Linked DNA regions of Homo sapiens. The protein of the gene in region 2 purifies or fractionates together with the protein of the main gene of each other region. This does not show direct contact. Each region holds a gene or a part of one and is shown on either strand. Other genes may lie near its edges.

The links.
Region 1: the proteins of PRKX (region 2) and LCP1 purify together in Homo sapiens (affinity purification with mass spectrometry; one large-scale study listed by BioGRID and IntAct). This does not show direct contact.
Region 3: the proteins of PRKX (region 2) and DMBT1 purify together in Homo sapiens (affinity purification with mass spectrometry; one large-scale study listed by BioGRID and IntAct). This does not show direct contact.

What each region holds. Positions count from the first base shown.
Region 1 is NC_000013.11:46,151,044-46,154,697, forward strand, and holds part of LCP1 (plastin-2), read right to left. Parts: intron 1,903-3,654; coding exon 1,737-1,902; intron 36-1,736; coding exon 1-35.
Region 2 is NC_000023.11:3,707,075-3,710,728, forward strand, and holds part of PRKX (cAMP-dependent protein kinase catalytic subunit PRKX), read right to left. Parts: intron 1-3,654. UniProt on the Homo sapiens protein: Serine/threonine protein kinase regulated by and mediating cAMP signaling in cells. Acts through phosphorylation of downstream targets that may include CREB, SMAD6 and PKD1 and has multiple functions in cellular differentiation and epithelial morphogenesis.
Region 3 is NC_000010.11:122,640,635-122,644,271, forward strand, and holds the end of DMBT1 (scavenger receptor cysteine-rich domain-containing protein DMBT1 isoform e precursor), read left to right. Parts: intron 1-2,487; coding exon 2,488-2,764; 3' UTR 2,765-3,102; downstream 3,103-3,637.

The DNA.
Region 1 (3,654 bases), on a different chromosome or scaffold from region 2:
CAGGCTCTCACCTTCTCTCAAAAGAGCAATCAGAGCTGAAGAAGCACAAAAACCACAGAAAAATAAATGCAGCGATGTTGGGGGAGGGGGGTTGGTTATAACTTTCATTAAGCTCTGCTAAAAAGCTAAAGATAACAACGTTACCTCTTTGGGGTAAAGGTTCTTGTAGCCTTTCCCATGGATTAAATATTTTATTATTATTCCCTAAAAAGAGGCGTAAGCCATTGTGAGCTTATTTATTATCTCCATTTTCCAGATGGAGAAAACAAAGCACAGTGAATCTCAACGCTATGTTTAAGAACATTTGGGCAGAGCCATAAAAATAACCAAGGCTACTGGCTCGGATGTTTTGCTGGGTCTGTCAAACCACATTTCACAATATGACAACATTTTTGCTTTTAAGAGATCAATTTTGTAATAATAACAATGTTCTCTTGTCTATTCCCATAGGTGTTTTATATTTCAAGTGCTTACCTGCCTAATTATAGCAACTCAACAATGTAATCAACTCTCCTCTACGTTTTCCCAGATGAGTAAGTATTTTTTTGCTCAGCTAGAAGGTTTAAATTTAGCTGAGGTCATTATTTGAAGATCAATATTCTTTCTCACAGGTTCTAAGATCCCTATTTCCTCTCCCCCGCCTTCTTTATATTATGTTTAATACATTGGTTTTTAAATAATATTTCAGGATTTTTCATTGGTTATTGTGATTTGGACATATAAATAAAAAAGTATGTATAACTAAAGATTAGAACTTGACTACAGATTTCATATTGGTAGGATTTGTACCTGATAACTAAAAGATAACATCGTGTTTTGCATGATACTTATCAAGGTGGGCTACCTCTGTCTAAGCCAGGGGGCTGTCACTGTTTACATACAGATAAGATGGTGAGAGAAGACGCAATAAGATTGACAGCTACATATTTAGTTGAGAACTCTGAAACCCTAAATGGAATTTTCTACGGTCTTTAAAAATGTTTATTCTAGCCTGCATAGATTTAAGGTGTGTAACGTGATGTTTTGGTATACTTATCTTGGTAGACACATACACAGTAAGGTGGTTACTGTTGGTCAAGCAAATTAACATACTCACATCTCATATCGTTACCTTTCTTTTTCTTTCTTTCTTTCTTCATTTCTCTCTCTATCTCTTTCTTTCTTTCTTTTTTGTAGGAAGAGTGCCTGAAATCTACTTTCTTGGCAAATTACCAGTATACAGCACAATATTATTAACTATAGCCCTCGTGCTGTTTAGATCTCCACTTATTCATCCCATATAATTGCAACCTTGAACCCTTTGACCTATACCTTCCTCTATAGTTTTGATAAGAAATAGACCAAGTTCCTCCTAATCTGGTACCTTCACTATAGTATATGAATGTGAGTTGCTTACTTCGCAAAGTGCAAGTTAAAAGTCCTCTTATTTGTTACAAATATCTAAAGGCAAAGTGAGCTCTGAAAAAACCTCTTGAGGTTAGAGTGCCAAACATTCAAGACTGAGCCCTATGCTCCAAACAAACATTATTGTTAGTCTATGGTCTTAAAAAGCTTTTGCTCTATCATTAAAAAACGTCTGGTCTGTGTGTATAGAATCTGTGACATGAATACCATGGAATCAATATAACTGTGTAGTTTTCAAAACTTGAGAATTTCTGACATCTTCCTCCTACAGTCCCCAACGCGTAAGTTATTAGAAAGCTGTGTCATAAATGACCTTTGGGACTTGCTCTTACCTTCATTTCTGCTGAGTTCAATGTCAGCAAACAACCCAATCTTGATGACTTGCCACAGAAGTCCCAGGACCAGATAAGGCTTCCCCTCCTTCAGGTCCTCAGCCCCTATGTTGACCACATGGCACCCGATGGCTGAGGCAGAGTTCAGAGCCAAGTTCAGATTTTCCTGAGGGAGAAAATGTATGCAAGTTTTTGTTCTATGACTTTGTAGATGCCAAATAATACCGATGGCAACAGTAACAATGTTTTCCTTCTGCGAAGGTCACAGGTTTAGAGTCATGGTCTTCACTCATTTTAACATTGAGAAAAAAACAGTGACTCATAACCAGAAGAGAAAATCCAGTAACCCAGACACCGACCACTCATGCAGTGGTCCATTCAATCAAACCAGCACCATAAGTTGAAGGCCCATTCTGGTTGGCATGAGACTGATGAGGCCTATATTTTTCCATCTTGCTCTGTGATGAAGCTGACACACAAAACATCTCTATTGGCCAAAAATAAAGGGACACCTTTGAGAAAGTCATTGTCCTGTCACTGGCCATCATGAATAAGACAATTGTTGATGTAAATCAAGATCATAAAAGAGAGTAGCAGAAGAGCTTTTTGACTTGAAGATTGGGTGTTAAGAAAATGAAAAGGCTGGCACGGTGGCTCATGCCCATAATCCCGGCACTTTGAGAGGTCAAGGCGGGTGGATCACCTAAGGTCAGGAGTTTGAGACCAGCCTGACCAACATGGTGAAACCCCATCTCTACTAAAAATACAAAAATTAGCTGGGCATGGTGGCAGGTGCCTGTAATCCCAGCCACTCGGGAGGCTGAGGCAGGAGAATCTCTTGAACCCAGGAGGCAGAGGTTGCGGTGAGCTGAGATCATGCCATCACACTCCAGCCTGGGCGACAAGAGTGAAACTCCATCTCAAAAAAAAAAAAAAAGAAAACGAAAATGAAAAATAGATACGATTAAAATTCCTGGAAAAGATGGAATGGTTTTTGCTAGGTTGATTTGTTGAGTATCTGTAATAACTAGGGAACCTGAGTATACACACACATACTCATAGATTCTATGTTCTTATGAGTAACAACAATGCAGGTAATGTAACTCACATATAGTCGAGATAGAGTCAAGGGAGTTTTCAGTCCAGACTCTGTATGTACTATTCTTGAGTTTAAAAAGGAAGAGATATCAATGTCAGAGATGTATAGAAATTGTTTTAATTGGCAAATTAAAAACAAAGCAAAGGCCGCCAGTGAATTAGGAAAAGAACTATCAGAAGAAAAGTGGGTCCTTGTTCTAGTGCTTAAATGATGAGTGAAAAATACTGTTTCTATATATGGTCAAGATTATGAGTAAATTTAACATTAAGTGCATTCATATGTGTTTAATCATTGTTCTCAATTTGGTTACCATTTCCATTTTTAAAGTACACAAGGTTGCTTAAATCCACACAGGAGATAATGTATCGTTCATGATTTAAGAAGTTAGATATGGTTTCTTAGCAAAAGAATTATGATAATGTTAAAATATTGGAACACAACACAGAAATACACTTACTGCTGGTTACTATTCCAGTTAATCAACAAATTGATGGAATAAAAGCAAGTTATATTTATTATACTCGTGGCTGTGGCCAAAATTACTATGAAGGCTGCCAGAGTACTTCCCGTTTTTCACCCCCTCGCTTCTTAGAAAGGCTTATGTTTTCATCTAAAATGCTGTTTATTTGGCATCAAATCAAAGATAAATTGCTAAGGAAAGCTTGAGTTAAAACTTTAGCCAAAGTGAATTTTATTCCTAAGTGGCCAAAACAAACATACAAAGCCCCAGCTGCTACCACTCCACCAGTCTCCCTTCTTTGCTGCTCAGAAATGTATCCCTTTATCCCTGAAGTATGACAAGTCACCAGCCCAAAGCCT
Region 2 (3,654 bases):
TGTTGATTGCACCACGGCACCCCAGCCTGGGCGACAGAGTAAGACCCTGTCTCTAAACAAAAAAGCAAAAAGAAAATAACACTAATGTTGTCATGGTGGAGCTTCTGCCCATAGAGAAACTAATGTACATATTGTACCCGTCCAGTACTTGGCATCAGTGAGTGTCATAAAGAACAACTGCCGATAATGCCATCATCCATTCATTTATTTATTCACACACAGAGTGACCAGCTTGTCCCTGTCTCTGCCTGCGACTCTCCCAGCTAGCACTGAAGGTTTCCCACCTCAGGAAACCCCAGGCACATGAGGAGGGTTGATTTCTCTATTCATGCGGTGGATGGTCTTGGGCACACACTAAGTGCCGGGTCTGTTCTTTGGATGTGGGAGATGAAAGTGGCTCCAACACACAGAGGTCCCTGCACACTTGGCATTTATGTGCCAGCAGCGGAGGCAGGCAGAATGCTTGAGCCCAGGGGTTCAAGTCTAGCCTGGGCAACACAGCGAGACCCTGTCTCTTTTATTTAAAATAAGTCCTGCACATGTATCTTAATTTAACTTAAATTTAATTTAACATGTATTTTAACTTAAATTAAAAAAATAAAATGAAATAAACAATGAAGAGGAGAAACCGGCAGGACTTCTATCCTTGGAAATGTTCTCTGATGTGTAATATTTGATCTCATCTCTTGGCATTTGCGTGATGCACTTAAAGGAAACTGTCATTCACACATGCATGAGCCTGTCTCACACGGAGCACCCACATAAGGTAAATAAGATCAAAGGGCTGAGCTCCACTTTCTGTGTATTGTTAGGCTACAAACAACACTCCTAATTGCTATGTCAACACTGCCCACAAGGCTGCTGATTTATGCACACAGTAGAATCTCACCAGTTCAGATGCCATTCGTCCCGGCAGCATGCTGTGTGACAGACAGGGTGGGGATGCCGTGGACTCAATGTCTGTGTCCCCCTAAAATTCCTGTGTTGAAATCCTCACCTGCAAGGTAATGGTGTCAGGAGGTGAGGCCCTAGGGAGGTGATGAGGTCGTGAGGTTGGAGCCTCATGAATGGGATCACTGCCCTTATAAAGGGGCCCCAGAGAGCTCCCTCACCCCTTCCACCATGTGAGGACACAGCGAGAAGGCACCATCTATGAACCAGGAAGCAGGTCCCCACCAGACACCAAATCTGCCATGCCTTCATCTTGGACCTCCAGCCTCTGAACTGTGAATAAATGTCTGTGGTTTATAAGCCACCCAGTCGGTGGTGTTTTGCTACAACTGCCTGAACCGACTAACTTGAGGCATTAATAAGAACCCAGCAACAAGGAGAGGAAAGGAAATTCTGGCCAATTCAGGAGAACCAAGGACAAGAGAAAACCTACCAGTATAAGCACTTTAGATCTGAGAACCATGTATCATTAATTATGAAGATCTCCTAGCTCTTAAGAAAATAAAATATTTTCAGATTGTATAGTGTGTGAAAGTTTAAAAAAAAAAAAAGTGTCTGGCCAGGCACGGTGGCTCACACCTGCAATCCCACCTCTTTGGGAGGCCAAGGCGGGCGGATCGCCTGAGGTCAGGAGTTTGAGACCAGCCTAATCAACATGGAGAAACCCCATCTCTACTAAAAATATAAAATTAGCCAGGCATGGTGGCACATGCCTGTAATCCCAGCTCCTCGGGAGGCTGAGGCAGGAGAATCGCTTGAACCCGGGAAGCAGAGGTTGTGGTCAATACACTCCAGGCTGGGCAACAAGAGTGAAACTCTGTCTCAAAAAAAAAAAAAAAGTGTCGAGCAAGACCGAGGGGTGTTCTGTGGTGAGGGAATTCATCCTGCACCATGGTTTGGAGGGTGGTAGCTGCCAAATCCACACACTGGGTAAAACTGCACAGAACTCTACACACACACTCGCAAACACAAATGAGCACCTTTTGAAAACTAATAAAGCCTGAACAAGCCGGGCACGATGGCTCATGCCTGTATATAGTCCCAGCACTTTGGGAGGCCAAGGCAGGAGGATTGCTTGAGCCCAGGAGTTCAAGGCTGGAGTGAGCCGAGATCGCACCACTGCACTCCAGACTGGGCAACAGAGTGAGACCCTGTCTCAAAAAAAAAAAAAAAAAAAAGCTGAACGAGGTATGTGTTCTCTTTAATAAGGATATACCAACATCGATGACATGGTTCTGATATTGTCCCACGGATATGAAGACGTCACCATGGGGAAGTTGGCTGAAGGGTCCATGAGACTCCAGGTACTGTTTTTGAAATCCCCTGTGAGTCTGTATTTCAAAAAATATATATTTTTAATAGGGGTCTAGGAACTTTGGAGTCTTCCTCATCGTCATCGTGTAGGACAGGTTCCGTCATTATTTCCCTCTGTAGATGAGTAAATGCAGAACTAGGCTGAGAAAAGGAAAATGAAATGTGGACCCAAGGCCTGGCCACTGGTTTACCTGTTGAATTACCTCCTTCCTGACAGGTTAACACTTGGGGTACCCATGACAAGCAAGCACTGGGTTGTAGATGCCAAATGATTCCATAAGGACACTTCTGGGAAAAAACCCAAGTATTTTTTATCTGATATATAGAGAAAGGAATTCTCAAGTGGTCATTTTAAGTAGGAAATTGGTAAAATAAGGCTGGTAGATGGCTGCACAGATTCATCCTCTTCTCTCTACATAGGGTGAGTTTTTCATTTCCATAATATCATTTTCTTATTTTATTTTTTATAGAGAGGATCTCGCTCTATCACCCAGGCTGGAGTACGGTGGCGCGATTGTGGTTGACTGCAGCCTTGACCTCCTGGGCTCAAGTGATCCTCTTGCCTCAGCTTCCCAGGTAACTCAGGTATGCGCCACCATGCCCAGCTAACTATTACTACTATTTTTTTTAAGAGATGAGGGTCTCACTATATTGCCCAGGCTGGTCTGGAACTCCCGGCCTCAAGTCATCCTCCCACCGCGACCTCCCAAATAGCTGGGACTACAGGCACGCACCACTGTACCTGGCCCTGAAATTTCTTTTTTTAAAGCACAATTGTTCTCCATCATAGGAACAAGCATGGCTTGGTTATATGAACAAGAAATTTGAAGAACCAGATTGAAAACCATTTTTTCTCTGAGGACTAGTATGACTGTTCTGATCCAAAGTTCCTAAAACGAAATCGGCCTTTAGACCAGACGTACTCCAGAATCCCTTCACGCATAAAAAAGAAAAAAAGAATCCATTATCAGACTTTTCACAACTGCAAACTGCACTCTTTCTTCCTAACTACCTGACCTTGAGGAAAACTGGTCAATCTAGAACGCTGACAAGTTTCTTTTTCTCTCTGTCGCCCAGGCTGGAGCGCAGTGGTGTGATCTTGGCTTACTGCAACCTCTGCCTCCTGGGTGCAAGCAATTCCTCTGCCTCAGCCTCCTGAGAAGCTGGGATTACAGGCGCCCGCCACCACGCCCGGCTAATTTTTGTATTTTCTCAGTAGAGACAGGGTTTCACCATGTTGGCCAGGCTGGTCTGGAACTCCTGAGCACAAGTGATCCGCCTGCCTCGGCCTCCCAAAGTGCTGGGACTACAGGTATGAGCCACCACGCCCAGCCTGTGATTGGCTTTAAGTCATAGAAAATAGGATTGCTCAGCTGGCAATCTGCATAC
Region 3 (3,637 bases), on a different chromosome or scaffold from region 2:
GTTCTGTATCACATCCCTGATTTCTCATCAGGTAGGATGACCATGTATCATCTCCAGTTAACATCTGGGGAGATGGGTTTCTGGAGAATAGAACAGCTCAGCAGTGTTCACTCAGCAGGTTAGCTGTAAACCGTGATCAGACTCTAGGTGACTGAACTCCAGCCATACGGTTAAAAAGACCTGCGTATAGTGGGAAAAGCATTGATTTGGAGCAGACCAAGGTTGAAATGCCAGCTCTGCCACGTGCCAGTTGCATGATTCTGGGCCAGTGAAAGCACCTCTATGGACCAGTTGCTCGCCTGTCAAGTGGGGATAATGACACGCACATTGTAAGGCTGTTGGGAGGATGGGATGAGAGAGAGTGGATGTGGCACTGAGCACAGAGAGTGTGCAGCAGGTGGTCCACCAGGAATGTGCACTGAAGATGGCAGGAGCCCTGCTGCCCTCCTTCAGCCTGGGAATAGAAGCTCTGGGAGTCCACGGGTTCCAGTCAAGCTCAGGAGGTGCAGAGGTCAGGCCAGAGATGTCAGGCTGGGGCCAGAGGGTGTGCAGGCTGGGCTGCTCTACCATAGCCCAGCTTCCCTGGATGACTGCATGTGGGTGAAGTGGGGTTTGACTCTTCTGCACTCATGATGACACCATGATGTGCAACTCCAGCCCCCTCTGAAGTCTCTGTTGATAGATGTGTACCACACTTCTTGGCTTACAATATAGACCTGGACACTTCAGTAGCCATTGCCTTCCAAGAGAATTTATACCAATAGGATAAAGAGTTCTACTAGGAATTAGAGGTGGGCAGATTCAATTCGACACCCTCTTGATATGCTAAACGTAGCACCTCTTTCCAGGCACAGTGTGAACATATGTCAGTTCAGTAGGTAGGTGTTGAGGCTCACCTTGTTTACAGTCTATGCAGCTTGCTCAATTCACAGCAGCCCCCTTGGTGGCTGAGAGGAGGGGAGAAAGCTTAACCAGATTCCCGTTGTACAAATAGTCATAAGGTGACTTTTGAATTTGTGTGAATTGATTGACATTAATGAAAATGAGTGGGTGACCTTAGTTCTTCCTTGCCAAAGGATTCTTTCTGGTCAAATCCTGCCATTTCTATATGACAATGCAATTTGCTGGGAAGACGGGGATGTGTGTGCAGGGGTAGATGTACCCTGGCTATACCTGGAGCACAGGGACTTATTGGCTACACCTGGCCATCAACAAGATCATCCACCTGGAAGTCCATTAGAATGACCTGGGGCTCCAAACACACCCTGCCCAGGCCCTACCCATACATTCTCTGTTTGGCCTGGTGGGGCTTGGGCATGTTACGTTTAAAAAATCTTGAGTGATTCTGAGGTGGAGTCATGGCTGTGGCTTCGCTGTGGCATTCTGGTCTGCGTGGAGCCCTGAATGGCAGGGTTTTACGGCAAATGCAATGACTGCCCAGGGGCTTCTAAGTGACCCTGACCTTTTTCCCAAGTGTCCCACCTCTGAACAAGCCTCTGGCTATTTTTGCTTCCTCCTTTGCCACTAAGGGAGCTACTGTGAAAAAAAAAACAAAAACAAAAAAGAAAACTTGGTATTTGAGAGAATCTGGGTTGCCTATGGAGGAAGGAAGGAGGCTCTAGAAGACAGAAGGAGGGGAGCAGATCCTGGCCAGGTTCCCAGGCTGAGCCAGACTGCCCTGGAGACCACATCCACCACCCACGAGAAATGCCCATCCTAGGCCAGTGGGCCAGTTTTCCTGGCTTTTCTCTTTGCCATGCCCTTCAAAATCCCACCAATCTATAATAACTGGGTTAGTGTGAGCTGCTTCTTCCATCTTAGGAAAATTCCTGTAAGCATATCCTTAGGTTATTTTCCCTCTGACCCCTGCTGAGAGGAGGTGCCCCAGGGAATGAGGAGGGGGTTTATATCGGTATAGGGGCTCCTGGAGGGTTCGCAGGCCAGTGTGGAACGTACAGCTGCATGGGGCTCAGGGCAGGCTGAGGAGGGTCAGGAAAGAGAGGCCCTGGGAGAGGGAGGGTCAGGGCACTGTACTCAGAGTGCAGCCGAATGAGACCTTGCCTGGCCCTGACACCAGGTGAGAGAAGGGAAGGTCATTTACTTTTCTGCCCTGTCTCTGGGTCCCGCTCCTGGGCTCCAAACTCCAGCTACTTCCCTGACTCATCTGGTTTACCTGGGTGCATGGAGCATGTGGTCATTGTGGGATTAGGCCTCAACCCACTGTGCAGTATGGGACCTGCTTGTCTATCGGGAAAGCTCTCACAGGCTTTGCTGCCTAAGGATGGCGGTGAGGTACCGGAGCTGCCAGGATTTCTCTGCAGGCCCCTCAGTGAGTGTCTGATCCACACGTTCTGACAGAAGGAAGGTGAGGTGTGCAGGAGGCAGGGGCAGTGAGGACAGGCTGTGGAGTTCCTCACCTGGTACAACTGAGTCATGAAGGAAGAATCGGGCCTTGGTGAGAGCTAAGGGGCTACTGTTCTCTTCCAGATGCGTGAGGGATGACACCTACGGACCCTACTCCTCGCCATCTCTTCGCATTGCCCGCTTCCGGTTCAGGGCCTTCCACTTCCTGAACCGCTTCCCCTCCGTGTACCTGCGTTGTAAAATGGTGGTGTGCAGAGCGTATGACCCCTCTTCCCGCTGCTACCGAGGCTGTGTGTTGAGGTCGAAGAGGGATGTGGGCTCCTACCAGGAAAAGGTGGACGTCGTCCTGGGTCCCATCCAGCTGCAGACCCCCCCACGCCGAGAAGAGGAGCCTCGGTAGGTGGTCGCTCTCAGACCCCACTGTCCACCGGGGCGCAGACCCCTGACTCGGGGACTTGGGATGTTCCTCTTGGTGTCATATTCCAACTCAGATTGAGCCCTACATTGTGCTGCACCTGGTCATACGGAGTTGAATCAGACCTGGTTCCCGCCTCCCCCAAGGCTCATGGTCCTTGGAGGACCCGTTGCAGGGTGAGGTCAAGAGAGTTCTGACCTGGATGGCCCATAGACCTGACGTCCCAGAATCCATGCTTCTCATCTGCAAAATGAAAATGTCAATACTTACTTCTTAGCACTGTTGAGAGGGTTACTTACATAAAGGAATTTTGGTGAAACTGCCTCAGCCTGTTCCTGGTGCAAGTCATTGAGTGCTTGGTAAATGGTAGTTTTTGTTACTCCTGTTGTTGTCACCCATGTTAACAACACCAATGATGACAGTATTCCTCACAACGATAATAACTATAACAGCAGACGTGTTGACATCAGGGTCTAGACAGGGCCATGGGGACGCCAGCTGCATGGATTTGTCCTGATCGCTGGCAGGCTCTACTGGGCACAAGCTATGTCACTTTTCTTCTCCAGAACAGGGAGTGCATCTGCTGCTGTGCTGCTGTGTTGCTGTGCGGCTGTGCTGCTGTGTTGCTGTGCGGCTGTGATGCTGCGCTGCTGTGCTGCTGTCATGCTGTGCTGCTGTGATGCTGTGCGGCTGTGCTGCTGTCATGCTGTGATGCTGTGCGGCTGTGCGGCTGTGCGGCTGTGCGGCTGTGCTGCTGTGTTGCTGTGCGGCTGTGCTGCTGTGTTGTGGGCATGGACGAGGGAATGAATGTTTGCAGAGTGATGCCCAGGATTTCTGGCCCAGTCTGGGGCTAGGTCA